3 separate regions of the Homo sapiens genome follow, and all the other regions are linked to region 2. Evidence: fine-mapped expression QTL. A gene starts in region 2. Each other region holds a variant in brackets. All regions are shown on one strand. Distances are between the middles of the regions.

Region 1 (2,761 bases), 280 kb before region 2:
CTTGTGCAACTGGAGCAGAAATGGAAGGGAGATCTTAAAATCCAACATGCATTTAAAAATCCTCCATCAGTGGAATCATTCACCTTAAAACATGACAGAAATGGCTCACCTGTTCCTGAAGGATTCCGCCAAATGGCTGTCAAATCATGACTGGAGAAATGAACCTCACTGTTGCTTCCTCTAGTCTCTCACTACAATATGTGGTCATTCCTAAAACTCTTGCCAGCATGAACTGTAATTGTTTTAACTTACCGTCTACCTCCTCCCTGGCCTGGGAACAACCTGGGGACGTGAGCTGTGTCTAACTCATTCTTTCCTTCGTAGCCACACTGTGGCCAGTAAATATGTGATGAACGAATAAATGACATTTCAAAAATGCACCATGTAATCAAGGACAGTGAAAGGAACTGTAATCCCGTGGAGGAAAAATATTCCTCATTTCATTTGAGCCAGGCTCCTAGCCTCTCTACTGAGTAAGGAGAAAAACCATCATCAGCTTCAAAGAACTAGCTTCTGACCACTTCCAACTTTGGACTTGTAGAAACCCATGGCCTTGAGCTTGTCCAGCTAGATTTCCTCTTGGGGCCCATATTTTTCAGGGCTCCAAGGCCTAAAACTTTTTTGAATAGAGTTTAAATTGAAAGAACTCCAGGCCAACATCTACACGACAGTCCTCAGTTCCAGTCACCTTTCTGATTTAGAGTGGGTACCTACCAGATAGGGGACATTAGAAACCCAACCCACCTCTACCCATACTGTTTCTGTTATTAGTGGAAGCATACATAAGCACCAGTTCATCCTCTGGGTGAGCCTCACATGACCACGCTAACTCCTTACATAGTTTCTGCTTGGATGGAATGTCCCATTTTGCAGAGCCTAAAATATGAATTAAGACTGTTACCTCCTCCGGAACTCATCTTGACTATGATCAGGCCCTCCCCGGAGCCCAGCTTGTCGGCAACTGCACTGATGACTTCCTTCACCGAAGTGGCCACTGGCACCCGAATGGTTGTGTAGGTGTGGTCCATGCAATAGACCTTAAACAGAACTATCCAAAGGCAGTAACAAGGTAGTAAATCACTCTTAAGAGTTTTCAATAAAACTATAGTTATGAAAAATGTTTAGGCATCCTCTCCAATTTGCATCATTTTGCCATTTTTGTTACTGTATTTATTCATACTCATTTACCCCTATTCCTGCCCCTTCTAAACTGCTTACCTTAGCATTGGTCTAAGAATAGGTGCACATATGGTTGCCAAGTCCAATTAAAAGAACAAGAGATATTGGTGAAAACCCCACAAAGAGGTCATGGGAAAAAATTGAGAGTA[T/C]CTTCAGGCTGATGTTCAGGGTCTGAAGTGCTATACTGTAGGCAATTCACAGATCACTGCTACCCTGTGTGGCAGTGGGGAGACACCATTCACCTCTCTGCACACAGGAGGGCTTCCGCCTGGGCCATGAGCACGTGCTGACACTCCTGCTCACTTGCTTCAGTGGCTTGTGTGCTTTGGGGCCAGGCCATGTAAGCTCGGATGCTATTTAGCTCAGCAGACTTAGATCAGCAGATCTGGATATGGCACCCAGAGGCTCAACTCTGAACACAAAAATCCTGGGAGCAATTCCCATTATTATATTATAATTCCTGGGTTTAGAGGCAGTCCTAAATGACAAGATTTATTTATAGCTTTAAATGAAATTTTTATCATTATTATTGTGACTATTTTTGGTTGTGATTCTTTGGAGAATCTTAAATAACCAAACAAAAGCCAGCATCTTGATCTTCCTGATGTAAAGCCTCCCTGCTCAGGGCTGGGCTCAGGGCCAGAGCATTGTCCCTGGGCAGGATGCTGGTGATCCATTGTCTCCTTGGCACCCACTAGGCGCCAGCTACCTTCCCACCAGCTTTTCCCAGGGGTGGGCAATCCTGACAACCAGGCCCTGAGATCATCTTCATTTCCTCCAAGGAAAGGGGTTAAGCAGGGAGAGGCCAAATCAGGGAAAGGTAGACAGGCATCTCGGCTTCAGGCACAAGAGTTTAAGGACATAAATAATCGGGCCACCAAAGGGCACCTCCAAGCAAACCATCTGGAGGGCAACAGGGCATCTTCAAAAGAAGCTATTCTGTGGGTCCAAGGTGATGCTTACCATTATCCTGACTAAATAATCTATACAACTACGAGTTAGTTGGAAGAGGGTTCTCACCTTCATCAGAGCCGCGGATAGGCTGGCGCTTCTGGGCTCTCTCATCGCCCGTATTGAACTGTTGCAAAAGAACCTTGTGCTGTAAAAACAACCACAGCAAGTGCCATAAGGGACAGTGACCAATGCATGCTAGCATCTCAGAGAAGACACATCTGAGAAGCAAGCAGAGTCAAGAAATGAAGACAATATATTTCACGTCTACAAAAAAGAAATCACTTTTATGTATACTGCAATATAATATTTCTGGGGAATTGTAATTCTACAGGACACAGACAGAGAATGCAAGTTCATGCCACCTACCTTCTTTTGTGGTGCCTTTGCATCTTCTGAGCTACGAGAAGTAGAGAAAGCACATTATTTAATACCATTGCTACTATTAAATTGCCTTATTTGTATATAACTAATCTTATGTTAGAAAATGAAATCACAATCACAGAATCCTTTCAGGAGACAATATGAGCTTCCTCATTTTAATAGTAATAGATCAAAGCAGAAGGGTAGACAGCAAAGATATCAGCTCTTGTCACAGGCAGATTCCTGGCAGAACCGATGTTCAAAGCCA
Region 2 (2,761 bases):
AATCTGTTAATTGAAAATTTTTCAATATGGCAGAGCACAAAATATTTCACACAAATGCAAATAGAGATGTCATGCAGATAGCTGCAAGACGTGCATCATTGCCCTTCTGCATCAAACTCCGAAATTCAGAGGCAGTTCACTCTGCAAGATTTCTTGCTCAGTTCTTAAAAGTTCAGATGCATCACCTTTTAATCAGGGTAATAAGCTATAATTGCTAACATACTGTGTAACGTTTAAACCTGCAATCTGGACAAACAGAAAATTATGCTGTCACAGCCTGGAAACAACTGCAATCCACTGTTAACACACACATCCTCCTTAGAGAGAGCTGTCGTCGGGAGTTACATGCTTTATGGTTTTAATTATTTTTAGCGTAAAGATCTTTTCCCGAGAAGCAGGTATTAAGACGAAAGCAGCCTCCCAAATGACCTTCTCTAACACAGACCTTGAGCGAGCGACTGCGGGGGCAGAGAGCTGTGAATTTCAGCAAGGGATTCGACAGCTCCACCGGGTCCCTCACACTTTGCTTTCAAGAACAAAAAAAGAATGTTACTCTGCACCTGCCGGTGCCCCCACCCCTCTTTAAAACTTCATACCCCGCAAGGTCTGAATAGCCGGAAAGGGTATGCATCGATTCTTCTGTCCCGTGATGCCAAGAGAAAATAAACCCCCACCCAGGAGCGGAGCCTGGAGTCGCGGCAGGGCAGGGGGTTGGAGAGGTGGGTGCTCTCTCCCCTTACTGCGCTGCATTTTCTCCACCACGTGTAATAATCTCATGCCGCTGGCACCCCACGAGAGGCGGGGATCCTTGTCCTCCTGTCTCCCGGACGAGGACCTCAACCCCTTCCCCCGCTCGGGGACCCCGGCCACCCGCAGCCCGGCCGCGCTGCGCCCAGGTGCGGAGCTGCGGCGGTCTCAGGGCCCGGGCAGCACCGCAGAGCTCGGCCCCCGGCTGCGGCCCCCGGCGAGCTACCTTTTATCCAGGCAGGCGATCCACTCGGCAGAGGAGGAAGAATGGGCAGCGTGCGCAGCGACCATGTTGAGCGGCGGCGCGCGGTGTCCCTGGCTGCGGCGACCTCCCGCGCTCGCTCTGCCTGCGCCTCCGCCCCCGCCTCGTCCGCCGCGCGGACCCCGCTCCTCCCGGACGCCTGGCGACCAGCGCGGCTGCGACAGGCCCGCCCTCCCCGCGGGCTCCCGCGGCCTGGGGCGGTGGGGAGAGGGAGGGGACCCGGGGGGCGGGACGCGGGTGCGGGGAGGGCCGAGTCGCCCGCCCGCCCGCCGCTGCACTGCGGCGCCCGTGGGTGGGGATTCCGCCCCGGGGTGGGGACCCCGCGGTCCCGCTGCTGGGGGACACTGGGGGTGGCGACCCCGGTGGCCGGCCACCTGCGACAGGTGTCCGCTGCGTCCCTCGGAGACTGGGGCCCCACCCTCACCCCGGGGCCTCTGAGGCGGGGCGGGAGGGCAGGCGCCAAGGCAGAGTGGGGAGAGGGCTGCCAGTGTCTATATATTTTTCATACAGCAAATGCTACTAAAATGGCTGCTGCCTCTCTGTTTCCTTAGAAACCCATGAGTCTTCCTCAGCAGCTGTCGAAACTTGCCGGCGGTTGCTTGCTCACCTTTGCTGTCTCCCCTTCAGAAAAGGCTGGAGGGGAGGGCGAGGAAGGCTTGGCGTGGGGACGCCCGTCGAGTCTCTCAGTGAGGAATGAGAGGCCAGCTTCTCCTGCGGGGTGAGGAAGGGCTGGGCGCAATGGGGGGCAGTGCGGGCAGGGCTGAGGGGCAGGGAGGGAGGAGGCCGGTGGGCCCGATGTGGTCTGAGGGGGTGACAGGCTGAAGTCACTGGCCTTGAACCCTGGGCCTGCCTGGGCTTCCATCACCTGCATGGTGAAGAAAACACAGTTGAGAATGGGGAGTAGCCGGGCCACAGCAGAACCGAGACCCCGGACGCGCAGGTGAACTTGTATGGCTGGCCCCCTTGCTGTTCTTCCTCTGGCTGGAGTGTTGAATGGGTGGTGATAACGGCCTGTCTCTTGTAGATGTTCACACAAATGTCATGTCTACAAGTTATTCAGTTACACTCTGCCAAGAACCAAATTACACGCCAATGGTTGTTTAGGAATTTGCGGACAAGTTAAATGTTTTGGACTATTACCAAGCACTGTTTTGATATTTATGGCACTACATTTGGGGCCAGACAATGGGGGAAAGGGACATAGCATTGCTTTCTTCTACTGTTCCCTGCCTCCTCCCCCCACCAAACCTCCTATCCAACCCTGCTCAGGGGAGAGTCAGGGGGACTGGAGAGAAGGAAAGAGCAAGTGCTTTCTGGGATGCTTTGATCCTAATAAAACAATTATTACCATGATATAAAAGCCTCCAAATATGTGCCATTTCCCTCTGCTGGATAGCCAGGATCTAGTTTCAGACCTGCCACAGTGTTCCCACAGCAACTCCTCCCTCCCTGCTCAGGGCTTTTCCCCCAGTTAACCTTCATTCTGTTAATTTCTATCATGTTTATGCTAATATTTAAAATAATATACTATAGAAAGATTAACCAAAGGTATTTATGTTGTGGCTTTTTTACTATACAGGTATGAAGGAGGAACTGTATCTCCTATATATATTAAGTTTCATTTATAAAGACATCAGAGAGCACCTGAGAATGTTTCAAGGTCACCAAAAGCTTTCTGAAAATGCCTTTCTGCAAAGAAGGTTTCCAGGTAAGGAGCTAGAGGAGAAAGGAGCTGCACATCACCTGTCATCA
Region 3 (2,761 bases), 280 kb before region 2:
GCCTGTGAAAGACAACCTTTCTGATGGCCTTGTACTGTGAAAAATGAGCAAATTTAATTCTCTCTCAGATCATGCCAATTTAAAAGAATGTCACACTGTGCCCTAAGTTACTCTATAAACTACAATCTTAAAAATATTTCACTACACATGCAACATGAGCATATTTTGAATCACTCAAAGATGGAAACAGCATAGAGAGGAAAGGGAAGCTTTTACTGAGCTGGTAGTAATAGAGTGGTGAACACTTAGCCTCAATTTAGAAAAATAACCCCAAGATAGGACAATTAAGGTGCTAATGTGGTTTTTTTTTTTTTGAGACGGAGTCTGCTAATGTGGTTTTTAAGAAATAAATATATTTTCAAATGAATTAATATGCTTTTCAGAGAAAATACATCAAAATGCTTTACAAGTACTTAGGCAAAGAAACTATTCAAATTGATCCAATTGATTCACTAATTATTAATTAACCGACTACTTTGAGTAAAGCACCATGCTAGGTTCTGGTGATACAATGGGCACAGTCCTATTCATCTGAAATATTACATTGGACAACATGTTGGAAAGGAGGTATTCACATGTGTAAGAGAGAAAGGAGGAGTGGGGGGAGAGAGAGAGAGAGGAAAGATTCTTTCCTACTTGTTATGATAACATGTGTATAGAGCTTTACAATTCATAAAATAAGTCAATATTCTTATGCTATCAAATGATGCTTTCTACAAACCTGAGGAGGAAATATTTACCGGTGGGGAAAAGGAGATTCAGAGAGAAGAGATCTGGCCAAGGTTGTTGAGTGAATAAATGGCAGGGCTTGCAAATTCAGACAGGGCTCTTTCCACTATTCCCACCCCCACTATCCTAACCAGCAGCTATAGCAACTAGACCTTAGTGCTTGGGTTCATGAAATTATTAAGAATAAATGCATCTGGAAAGCAAAAAGCCTAATGGGAAAGAGATTCCGTGTGTGTGTGTGTGTGTGTGTGTGTGTGTGTGTGTGTGCGCGCGCGCGCTGAAGTTCCAAGGTTCCCGCAGCTGATTCAGCATGTTTAGTCACCAGGGCTGAGCACCCCTTGTCTTTGATGAAGAACCCCACAGCCTCTAGGGAGATAGAATTGACCAAATCCGGAGGGACTGGGAAAGGCTTTCTCCCTTTTCTCACGAAAGTTCAGTATTTTTACCCCTGGGAAAATAAAAGGAAGCGCTGACTTATTTCACAAAGTCTCATTTGTCCCCTCATGGATGTTTATTTACTAAAGTGAGGGTGGGGGTGATACTTCTTTTATAGCTGAATCCAGGCATTGCTAAAGGATTCTGCTCCTCCAGAGGCAACACATAGGGTTCCCCTTCTGAAATGTCTGTTGAATCAGGTTCTTAAGAAACACAGAGAGAACTTTGTATACAATTGATTATACCTGAAATGGTTACAGATCAGATGCTGA[T/C]GTTTCTATTCATTCCCATAACAATCTCCCCAGGCTTTTAGAAAGTTTGTAATTTTTAGCTTTTATTTAACTCCTACAAAAAAGGTAGGAAGGGGGAAAAACTATATTCCCTTCAGGTAGCAGCCAAGGAATAAAGAATATCCTACTAGTTCCCTTGTCTCAATATGATGTCAAAAGTGCAATCTAAAAAGAGTAACATTTCAAATACAGCATGTTCATAAATTCAGACACATCAGGAAGGTTGAAGAAGCCGTCTCTGGCTAAAATTGGAATAATGCATGATCAAGAAGTGCTTTTATTGAATAAGGCCATGACTCATGATATGACAGTTGGGTCCAGGAAAGAAGCAATATGGCTGCCTGAACTCATAGGGAAAGAGATGCAGAAAGACAACATGGTTCCTATATCTCATAAAGTTCTAGTTTTTTAAAAGTCTGTAAGGCAATCTAAAATTACTTACTGAATTAGTATTTTAAACACCATTAAGGAAAGGCCATATAATTTAAGTGGCCAAACTTATCACTGACACATTTGAGTTGATTTCAGGTAAGTCATGGAATCACAGGATCTCTGTTTCAAGAGCCCTTTGATTACATTTCCTTCAACTCCATCACCTTAGAGGTAAGAAAACTGAGGCAGAATGAGTTTAAGTGATTTTTCCAAATTTATCAAAGGAATTCTTGGAACTAGAACTCAGTTCTCTTATTTTCCTCCCCAGTACTCTTTTTACCTATGTTGTTGTGTTTTGTCTGATGTTAACATTACTTTCTTTATGCAAACATAGATTATACAGCAGAGTCAGATGACTTCAAAGTTTGTTGGGAAATAGGAAAATCCATCTGAGATGTAGAAATTGATCCCCCAAATCCTGATAACAAAGCACATGCAGAAAATCAAGAGTTAACTATTACAGCCTTCATAATCTGATAGAGAGGCACAGAAATCGTTAATACCTGAACGAGATCCCATCTGCTATAGTTTAATACCTGTCAATTAGGAAAGCAGGGGCTCACTGCGACTGAGCAGACACTGTTAAATCTGATCATTCAAATTCCAACTTGAAGTTTTGCTTACACAGTTGAGTATCTCTTTTCCCAAAGGCTTGGGACCAGAAGTGGTTTTGGATTTCAGATTTTTTTTTTGGATTTTGGAATGTTTGCATTATACCTACTGGTATGAGAGCTAAAAAAACTTCGAATTTTGGAGCATTTTGGATTTTGGATTTTCAGATTAGGAATACTTAAACTGTAATAAAGTATTTCTCACCATCTGGAAGCATTAAATCAAAATCCTTAACAGAAGGAACGAGGTCGTAAACTCACTGT

Direction of the effects. Positions count from the first base shown, and alleles are read on the strand shown. Sizes are in standard deviations (SD) of each study's normalised expression. Not every link is listed here.
For the expression in tibial nerve of the gene that starts at base 1,177 in region 2, allele C in region 1 goes with a higher level than allele T (large effect, 1.0 SD a copy in GTEx).

What was found. PIP is the estimated chance that this variant, and not a neighbour inherited with it, causes the effect.
Region 1: its variant is fine-mapped to the expression of RAPGEF4 in tibial nerve (GTEx, PIP above 0.99). The same link has a PIP of 0.9 or more in esophagus muscle, gastroesophageal junction, lung, sigmoid colon, subcutaneous fat and sun-exposed skin.
Region 3: its variant is fine-mapped to the expression of RAPGEF4 in ovary (GTEx, PIP above 0.99).

The regions. Positions count from the first base shown.
Region 1 is chr2:173,016,943-173,019,703 of GRCh38, reverse strand. It overlaps RAPGEF4 (Rap guanine nucleotide exchange factor 4), which reads right to left. Exons shown (of 31, transcript NM_007023.4): 20 at 2,500-2,530; 21 at 2,200-2,278; 22 at 902-1,048. Among named protein-coding and RNA genes, the nearest start is that of MAP3K20, 58 kb to the left of the region's middle. The variant T/C (reference allele first, on the strand shown) is at 1,329.
Region 2 is chr2:172,734,261-172,737,021 of GRCh38, reverse strand. RAPGEF4 (Rap guanine nucleotide exchange factor 4) reads right to left here and starts at 1,177. Exons shown (of 31, transcript NM_007023.4): 1 at 974-1,177. The coding sequence starts at 1,038. RAPGEF4-AS1 (RAPGEF4 antisense RNA 1) reads left to right here and starts at 816. Exons shown (of 4, transcript NR_026995.1): 1 at 816-896; 2 at 1,561-1,727; 3 at 2,589-2,717.
Region 3 is chr2:173,009,406-173,012,166 of GRCh38, reverse strand. The region is part of intron 17 of RAPGEF4 (Rap guanine nucleotide exchange factor 4); the gene reads right to left. Among named protein-coding and RNA genes, the nearest start is that of MAP3K20, 65 kb to the left of the region's middle. The variant T/C (reference allele first, on the strand shown) is at 1,437.